2 separate regions of the Homo sapiens genome follow, and region 2 is linked to region 1. Evidence: fine-mapped expression QTL. A gene starts in region 1. The other region holds a variant in brackets. All regions are shown on one strand. Distances are between the middles of the regions.

What was found. PIP is the estimated chance that this variant, and not a neighbour inherited with it, causes the effect. A credible set is the group of variants that fine-mapping cannot tell apart.
Region 2: its variant is the best candidate, but not a certain one, in a credible set for the expression of APCDD1L in cartilage (Steinberg 2020, PIP 0.58).

Annotation. Positions count from the first base shown.
Region 1 is chr20:58,512,787-58,517,171 of GRCh38, forward strand. APCDD1L (APC down-regulated 1 like) reads right to left here and starts at 2,613. Exons shown (of 4, transcript NM_153360.3): 1 at 1,873-2,613. The coding sequence starts at 1,921. APCDD1L-DT (APCDD1L divergent transcript) reads left to right here and starts at 2,593. Exons shown (of 7, transcript NR_034147.1): 1 at 2,593-2,954. RefSeq lists an enhancer at 1,216-2,214.
Region 2 is chr20:58,544,442-58,548,826 of GRCh38, forward strand. APCDD1L-DT (APCDD1L divergent transcript) reads left to right here. Exons shown (of 7, transcript NR_034147.1): 6 at 3,371-3,487. Among named protein-coding and RNA genes, the nearest start is that of APCDD1L, 31 kb to the left of the region's middle. RefSeq lists an enhancer at 1,620-2,121. The variant A/G (reference allele first, on the strand shown) is at 1,576.

The sequences.
Region 1 (4,385 bases):
GTTCAGTGGAAAATAGTGCCCGGTGTAGAGCTGGGAGCTGCAGTGGCAGGCTGAACGGCACCCTCCCCCTTTCTGGTGGCTGTGTCTGAATTGAGGGCAGGCTGCCCCCCTCTCTCGTCAGGCCCCCGGGCACTCTTGGCTTCTCTGCTGTTGAATCTGTCTGATTTGCTGTGGTGAAAGGTCACCGAGGAGCTGGGCAGCAAGACTCCCCAAGAGCCAGCCACGGCTCTACACTCACAGTGATTTCATTGGCATGACGGGAAGCTCCGGCCTGCCAAAGACAACAGCCATGTGCTGTGACTGAGACTGCAGGTTCCTGGGGCATGTGTCCCACCACTCTAGACTGTTCCATTCCCACTGGGTGCAACGGCCTGGAGGAGGCGGATGAGAGCAGATGGACACCCGGTTTCCCCATCCTGTCCTCCCTATCTCAGCACCCAGCAGAGGCGCGCTTCCACAGCTGGCCCCCTTGTCACCCTTTCCAGTTTGCATTTTCCTGCCCTTTCGAAAGAACCAGCAGGGGTGAGGTGGTCTATTTTCATGCTGATGATCAACTAACTCTGTGGCCAAGGACAGCTGTGTCACCTCTCGCTCCCAGACTGGCAGGGGAAGCGGCCCCTGGATGAATGTCCCTTTCGACAGGTGAATCTGCAACTCTTCAAACTGCGGAGGCACCCTCCCCTGACCCTCCTTCAGACCCCTGCCAGTTCTTCTCAAAACAGCTTGTTTAGAAATTTGGGGGCTGGGAAGAAAAGACTGTGATTGAAGAGCTCCTCGAGGTGACTTAGACTTTGCTCCTTGCCTATACATGGAGCAGAGCGTGCTCTGTGGGACCGCGCAGCCCCTCTTCACCCCGGGGTTCTCGGCTGCCATTCCCTGAACATGAGCTCAGTGCCAGGCAGCAAGTGGAGTGATCCTCCTGCACGTGCTCTCGTAATCTTCACAATCATCCCAGACGGAGGAGGGGATTTTGTGAGCCCATTTGACAGGAAAGAAAGTCAAGGCTGAGAGAGCCGATGGCCATGCTTACCCAAAGCCAGACGGGTTGATATGATGTTGATCTGGGCTTCCCAGCCAGGTGGTCTAACTCCAGGGCCAGAATTCTCAGCCATTCATAATGTGAGGGTGCTTGGGGATGAGCCCCCAGCTGGGCACACTTCAACTGTGGTTACTGTCATTTTTGTCAGTGGTGACTGGGCCCCTGTGATGGCACACTCCAGTCAGCTGGCCTTTGTACAGTTTTGTCTACCCTACTCCCCACCCCCACGAAGAGCCACCAGGGAACCCCTTAGTCCTGGAGAAGGCATTGACTACTCTACCAGGGGTTCCTGAAGCCCCTTGGTCCCCTTTGTCAGGCCTGCTGGGCACAACTCGAGCCTGGGGTCACTGCGCGCTCCCTAGCTTCTCCCCGAGTCCTGCTGCAGGAAGAAGCCCCGACCCCGCACAGGTCAGGATTCCGTGGGCAAAAACAACCCCAGTAACCTTGGTCTGAATAGCCGGGCTTGTCCCGCACCATGGGGGTCTCAGTGGGCCTGGGATCCTCCTGCATCTTCTTGGAGGCCCCGGTCCCACTGGGCCCGGCACAAAGGGCAGCTCTGGGTACCTACAGGCCAGGCCCCGACTGGCGCAGAGAGTGCAGCGGCTCTCATATTGCGAGGTGACGCGACTCCCTCCCGCAGGCCCCAGGAAGCTCCTGGAGGCGCGCAGGTGCCGGCCAGGTGAGACTGGAGAAAGGCGCGCAGGGCGCAGCATAGCAGCCGCGTGGGCCGACCCAGGGCCGTAGTCCCCAAGGGCCCTTAGGGGACATTAGACGGCGAGCTCCCTCCCTTCCGAGCTCAGCCAGTTTGCCGGGTGGGGGAGGGTGGCACCTACCTCCCAAAAGCACCAGGACGCAAGCGTAGGGGAGCATGGCTGCGGGCATCCCGTCGGGGCTGGCAGGACCGCCCGCCGGGCGCTGCCACGGTGCGCAAGGGGAGGCGCGGGCGCAGGGCTCTCGGACGGCTGCGGGCGCCGGCGGCCAGGCTGGAGTCCTGCGAAGAAGTTGCGAGGGTCCTGCGCCCCCCTCGGCGCTCACACGCGCTCAGCCTTCCCGGCTGTTGATAGTTGTAAGCGGAGCTGCGCACTCATAGGTCCAACTTGCCAGAAGAGGTGGAGACAGCCCCCGGCGAGGCGCGCACACCCGCGCAGCGCGCACAGCCCCCTGGTGCAGCTCCTGCCATTCAGACCCCCAGCCCTCCCCCAGATGTCCGTCCCCTGGCCGTCGCCTTCCCCAAAGTCTTCGCAGTGGGCAAGGAGGCCTCCCCCAAGCTCTGGTCCCGGCCAAGGCAGAGCGATGCGCTCCTTGCGTCAAAGCGCACCCCTAGCCAGGCCGTTCCCTGGAAGGGCAAGCGGGGCGGGGAGTTCCTCTAAGCCCCGCCAGTCCTGGGACCCCTGAAGTTTCTATTCAGGTCTTCCAGCTACTCCTGGAAAAGTCGCGTCAACTTGGATCCCAGCAAACCCAGAAGCGCAGTGAAAGTGGCCAACCCGGTCGCCTAGAAGCCAGCCCCGGCCTCTGTCTGTAAATGAGGCCGTCACCCGCTCCCCACCACACCCAAACGCATCTAGGCAAAGTGTGGACCCGACCAGGCGGGTTTTCCTCCTTCTCGCAACTCCTCCTCCTGCCCCCCTCCCTCCCAAATCTCATCTGAGTGAGTCAGCTGAGGGTGGCAGCTCAGAAGCGAGGCAGCCGTGAGGCGGAGGACAGGCTGGGGGATCCCAAAGGGTGCGCTCCAGCCCCCAACCCAGGCACTGGGACTCTGGTGGCACCCTGGGTGGCAGGCAAGCCTTGAAATCAAGTGCACGAGCCTTGGAAAGGAGGACCGGGAGAGTTATGGCATTTATGAATGAAGAAGAGAAAGAGAATCACTCGGATGGGAAAAGTTAACTGGATTGTTCCCACCTGCATGGATCACCGGGTAACTGCAGTGGGACCGAGGGGGCGAGGCTGCGGGCTGGGGATGTGCGGGTTTCCTTGTGTTGCCACGAACCCAGAGAGGGAGAGGAAGAAGATGGAAAGAAAAAGGAAAAAGGGAAAGAAAGTAAGAGGGGAGAGAGGGGAAAACTGAGGATGAAGAGAGACAGAGAAGAGAGACCTGAGAGAGGGAGAGAAAGAAAGAGACAGAAAGAGAAATGAAAGTGAGGAAAGGGGAAACAGGCAGAGAAAGAGAGAGAAAGGGGAGGAAAGAGAAAGGGAAAAGAAAGGAGGGAGTGAAATCAACAGAAAAAAGAGAACCAGGAAGGAGGAGGGAGGGGGAGAGAGAAGAGAGAAGAGAGAGAAGAGAGAACAAGAGAGAAGAGAGAAGAAGAGAGAAGACAGAGATGCGGTCTCCCTGGGGAAAGGTTTGGAGAACTGGGCCAGGCCTGTTTCCCGGGACTCACGAGTGAGCAGTCCACCTGCCCCTCTGAAGCATTTTATAGACTCATTTGTCCCACTTTTGTGGGCTGATCATCCCACAGGGGAACAGGGGACACCACCTCACCTTTTGATTTCTTACCAGAAACTTGGGCGAGGCTTCCAGGAGCCACAAGAGCCCTTCAATCCACCCAGGGACCCCCGATGTGGGCCCACCAGCCATCCTTAGCTTTCCTCCTCTCCAGAGGCAACAGGGAATAGGAAAAAGTCCAGAGCAAGGCCACACCATGATCTTAACGCAAATGGAAATGTGAGGAAAACGATCAATTTGCTTCCTGAAAATGACATTTTTTTTTTCTGGTTTCTATGAGACTCGAGGTGGCCTTGCTGAAACTGAAATCGGTATGAGCTTTCCCTGGCAGACAATGGCCATTGTCACATATTAAATTCTCATGAAAGGGATAACTTTGTGGGCAAGAGGAGAGTTGTGCAGGGTGATTATTTATACTTGCATAATTGTGATTATTTGTGGCAATTATGGGTCTTTCAATGTACAAAATTTACAATTATGGGTAGTTTAAAAACTACATGCTAAGGCCGGGTGCCGTGGCACACACCTGTAATCCCAGCTCTTTGGGAGAGCCAGACGGGTGGGTCACCTGAGGTCAGGAGTTTAAGAGCAGCCTGGCCAACATGGTGAAACCCCGGCTCTACTAAAAATACAAAAATTAGCTGGGCGTGGTGGCGGGCGTCAGTAATCCTAGCTACTCCAGAGGCTGAGGCAGGAGAATCACTTGAACCTGGGAGGCGGAGGTTGCAGTGAGCTGAGATCATGCCATTGCACTCCAGCCTGTGTGACAAGAGTGAAACTCCATCTCAAAAAAAAAAAAAAAAAAGTTAAAACTACATGCTATTCTGGCCATAATCATTTGAGACTTCAGTCTCTGGGCTTTCCGGATGTGGGTATTTCAAAGTCCCAGGCGGCTGATGGGGG
Region 2 (4,385 bases), 32 kb after region 1:
TGGCTGGTGCAGTGAGGCGGGGTTTCCATCAGTGTATGCCCAGGAGAGGGGATTACATCTGCCTGGCGTCCAGACCCCAGGTGGAGTGAAGCCGTTTATAACACAATTTGGCTGCAGTTGAATTTTAATCTTGGGATCCACCGATTGCTTTAAGGGCGAGCTCGAGAAGCCGCCATTTGTTTTTGATAGCTTTACCCAGAGACTAAAGAAATCCCTCCCCCCACAGTTGTTCTGTTAGGGGTTGTGTCTGTGGAAGGGAATTGAAAGAGAAGATTTGGTAAATAGGAGCCATGGACTGTCGTGCTTTCTGGATGAACTGTGTGGACACTGGCTTTCTGATAATCATCGTAGCTAATATTCACTGGGTGCTAATGAGACGTGAGGATGCTGCTAAGCACATTTCACATCATGTTTATCTTCTTAATTGTTTATTTTATTTTATTATTTTTTTTGAGACAGACTCTCACTCTGTTGCCCAGGCTGGAGTGCGGTGGTGCAATCACCACTCACTGCAGCCTCTGCCTTTGAAAGGGCTCAAGCAATCTTCCCACCTCAGCCTCCCGGGTAGCTGGGACCACAGGCACATGCCACCACGCCTGGCTAAATTCTTTTGTATTTTTTGTAGTTTTGTAGAGATGTGGTCTCCCCATGTTGCCCAGGCTGGTCTTGAACTCCTAGGCTCAAGCAAGCCACCCACCTTGGCCTTCCAAAGTGCTGGGATTATAGGCCTGAGCTACCATGCCCAGCCACATCATGTTTATTTAAAAACAAACAAACAAACAAAAACAAAACCCAACTCACAACAACCTGTGAGAGACTATCTCAGGCCCATCTTCTGGACCCGCACTGGCCAATATGGTCACCATTCGTTACTGCGTTTGAAATGTGGCCAGTCCATACAGAGACAAGTTGTAAATGTCAAACATTCACCAGATTTCAGACTTGAGGTGAAAAAAAAAAGTGTTAAGTACTCAATAACTTTTATATTGATTACATGCTGGGATTTGGGTGATATAAAATGTATAACGAAAATTGTATTCTTTTGATTGTGTACCCATTTGTTTTTACTTTTTGAAAATGTGGCTAGGAAATAAAAAATTATGGATGTGATTCACATCATACTTCTAAGGCACTGATCTTAGAAGAAGAAAAGACACACAGACCTGTAATCCCAGCACTCTGGGAGGCCAAAGTGGGCGGATCACCTGAGGTCAGGAGTTTGAGACCAGCCTGGACAACATGATGAAACCCCATCTCTACTAAAAAGGCAAAAATTAGCGGGCGTGGTGGCATGCTACTTAGGAGGCTGAGTCAGGAGAATTGCTTGAACCTGGGAGGCGGAGGTTGCAGTGAGCCAAGATCACGTCACTGCACTCCAGCGTGGGTGACAGAGTGAGACTCAGTTAAAAAAAAAAAAAAAGAAAGAAAGAAAGAAAGAAAAAGAGGCCCAGAGACTAAAGGATCATGCCCAAGGCCGCCCAGCATGCAAGTGTCCGGGCCTTTTAGATGCTAACAACATGACCCCAGAATGGGCACTTGTGCATGAGTCAGTTTCTCAGTCAGCTTTTTGTCGTC[A/G]GCCCCACATCCTGCAGACCTTGGCTGAATTTGTAGCCCCTCCGGTCTCAGTTTTCCCAGCTCGGTCATCAGAGGCTGGAGTTGAATGATCTTTGTGGCTTTTTTGCGGACAATGGCGTTCTCAATTTTGTACTCTTTGGCACAGAGTGGTGTAATGTGGAGAGGGGAGCATCAGTCTCTCTCTTAATGCTTATTTAATTATATTTAATTAGGAATCTCGTTGCAATTGGTCTCCTGGGGCCATCTGCTGTGGAGATTTTTGAAGAATCCAAATTTTATTTCTTGCCATCGATCCATGTGGTTAATGGGCCTGAGGAGGAATGATGTCATCTGTCCTTCTAACTTAGCACAAGAGGCAGGAGGAGAAATTGAGCAAAATCAGGCTGAGCGCCCGAGAAGGCCACCCTTTGGAGAGCCAGGGCGGGCCTGGCTCATTCCTTCAGGTTCTCAACTGTAGTGCCCACGGTGTGCCCCAGCTTGCTCTGCCCTGTGCCAGGATTTTGGGGACAGCTGGGTTCTGGCATCATCTGTGCCCTTGTTAACATGGTACCCTAAAATTGATGCTTGCCCTGATGGTAAAATGGTGGTCTGCATGTGATCGGCACCAATCTGTGACGTCCAGGGTTCTTGAGTCAGCCACGTATTCCCTGGGTTGCCTTCAAGATGACCTGAGTGGACTCACTGCCTATTCTTTTCCCTCTAGGTGGAATAGGATTCTTACAGGAGTAGGGTGATAAGAGAAGGGGGCTCTCCTTCATTGCTGCCATCGGGCTCCTTGGTGGAAAACTGGGGCAGGATTCAAAGCAAGGCTGACATGACCTGTACTTCCCCAGAAAGGAGCCGCTGGAGGCCTGGCTAGGGCCAGCTCTCCAGCCCCGGCAGCTGCCCCCCACCCACCCCCACCGGGCATTTAATCAGTGTAACTGATTAGTTGAAACACACCACAGGCTGGGAGCCTGCGACCCTGGCTGACGTCCGGGGCTGTTGTTTATGGCTGGGTGATTTGAGGCAAGCCTCCCGACCCCGCTGAGCCTCGGATCCCTCAGTTACAAAATGAGACTTATCATATCTGCCCCCCTCCCTCCCCAAGTTGTTGAGAGGCTCCAACAATGTAGAGAGGCTGATATGAAATGTGGGTAAACAGGAGAGTGGTATTTAAATGTACGCTCTTACCATAATTGCCTTGTATTGTGTGTGTATCTTATCTCCCCAATTAGATGCGAGATCCTTGGTGACAGCCACCATGTCTCCCCCCTTTTGATATTCCCCACGCAGCCGGGATGATGCTGAACATATGGCTGCTGCTCAATAAATATGTTCTGAATTGTACTGAATTTCATTTTGGTTCCAAATCACCCTAAAAACTTGATCAGGTGCAGCCCAAAGGAGCAGGCTGGATGACGGAGGCTCCCCAGCCTGGCTCTGTGGCCGTTATGGGAAAATATCTGTGGAATGAATGAATAGATGAATGAATGAATGAATGCCTCGTGGTGTTTGCTTTACTCTTCCTGCTCCCAGCTTTGACACTGGCTGTGAAATCTGCCTCCTGTGCTCAAAATGACTTCTCCCTCTCCTCCTTCGGGATACGCTTTCTGCATCCTGCCTCGCTGTAGCTCAGATTTCTATTAAGTAGTCAAACATAATATAAAATTGCCAACAAAAAGATCATTCCTGGATTAATCTCCCCCTTTACATAGGGAAAGACATAAAAGAGAGCATAAGATAAGAAAAGGAAATGAAATTAATCTTATACTTTCTATGGCTGCCTGTTAATTTCAAGCTTTCCTGCATCCAGGTGCCTGTGTTCCTGCTCGGTTTCTGGATTGCTTGGTACTTAAATGAAACATCTTATTAATCATTTCCCGGGAATGCTGTGCAGGCAAAAGGAAAACAAAGGCATTCAGGAGCCACAGTAAGTTTATTTTTATAGTAATGCATACCTTATCATCAAGCATGGCCAAGACATCAAAATGCTAAGCCACATTTGTATACGATCTCACACTGCTATTGATAAATCACGTTAACAGTAAGCTGCTGGATCAATTCTGCCCTGACACCAACCTCTCCACGAAATAGAGATTCGAGAATAAATGTGAAGGTAACCAGGGAATAAAACTGTTTGAGAAGTTTCACAAAAGAAGCTGAACTCTGCTAATCAGAAAGTAGATCCATCTTTAATTCCGAAATGACCGCACAGCAATTCAGCAGTCCAGAGGACAGGCAGAGTTTCTCAGCCCCGGGGTGGAATGGATGGCTTCCTATCTCTGTCCTGCCAAGGCTGCGTTCTCACATCTTCCAAAATGTCCATTAACCCCAGCTGGCCCCTCACCCCACCAAGATGATGTAAATATAATGATTAACCAATCCACACTAGCATTAAGATTTCTTGAAACTCCTCTTCACTGAAAAATGCATTAGCTCCTGGCAGTACTGTCCAGAAATTAATTCACAGACAACCGAGCATCATTACCCATGGTCTGCCCTGGCTAACTGCTCTCTCTGTTAGTGAATTTGGGAATGGAAATGAGCTATTTCCATCCACTTTATCATCCAGAGACCTTAGTACATAGTGTATCTCTGGTAAGTGCTGTTATTGTAACCTGTTTCTAGAATTGCTATTACCAGTAATTCTGCAGAAACAGGGTCCCACCCAAAGCCATCAGCACAGTGCCTTTAAATCTGAAAATCAGCCTTTAATCTCTACTTTGATGTTGTTGGCAGAGGTGAGAGTTTTATTTCAGCCCAATTGCTGTGTCTTTTAATTTTTTTAAGTAGTGAGCTATCATCCCTCCAACCCCCTCCCCCAAACA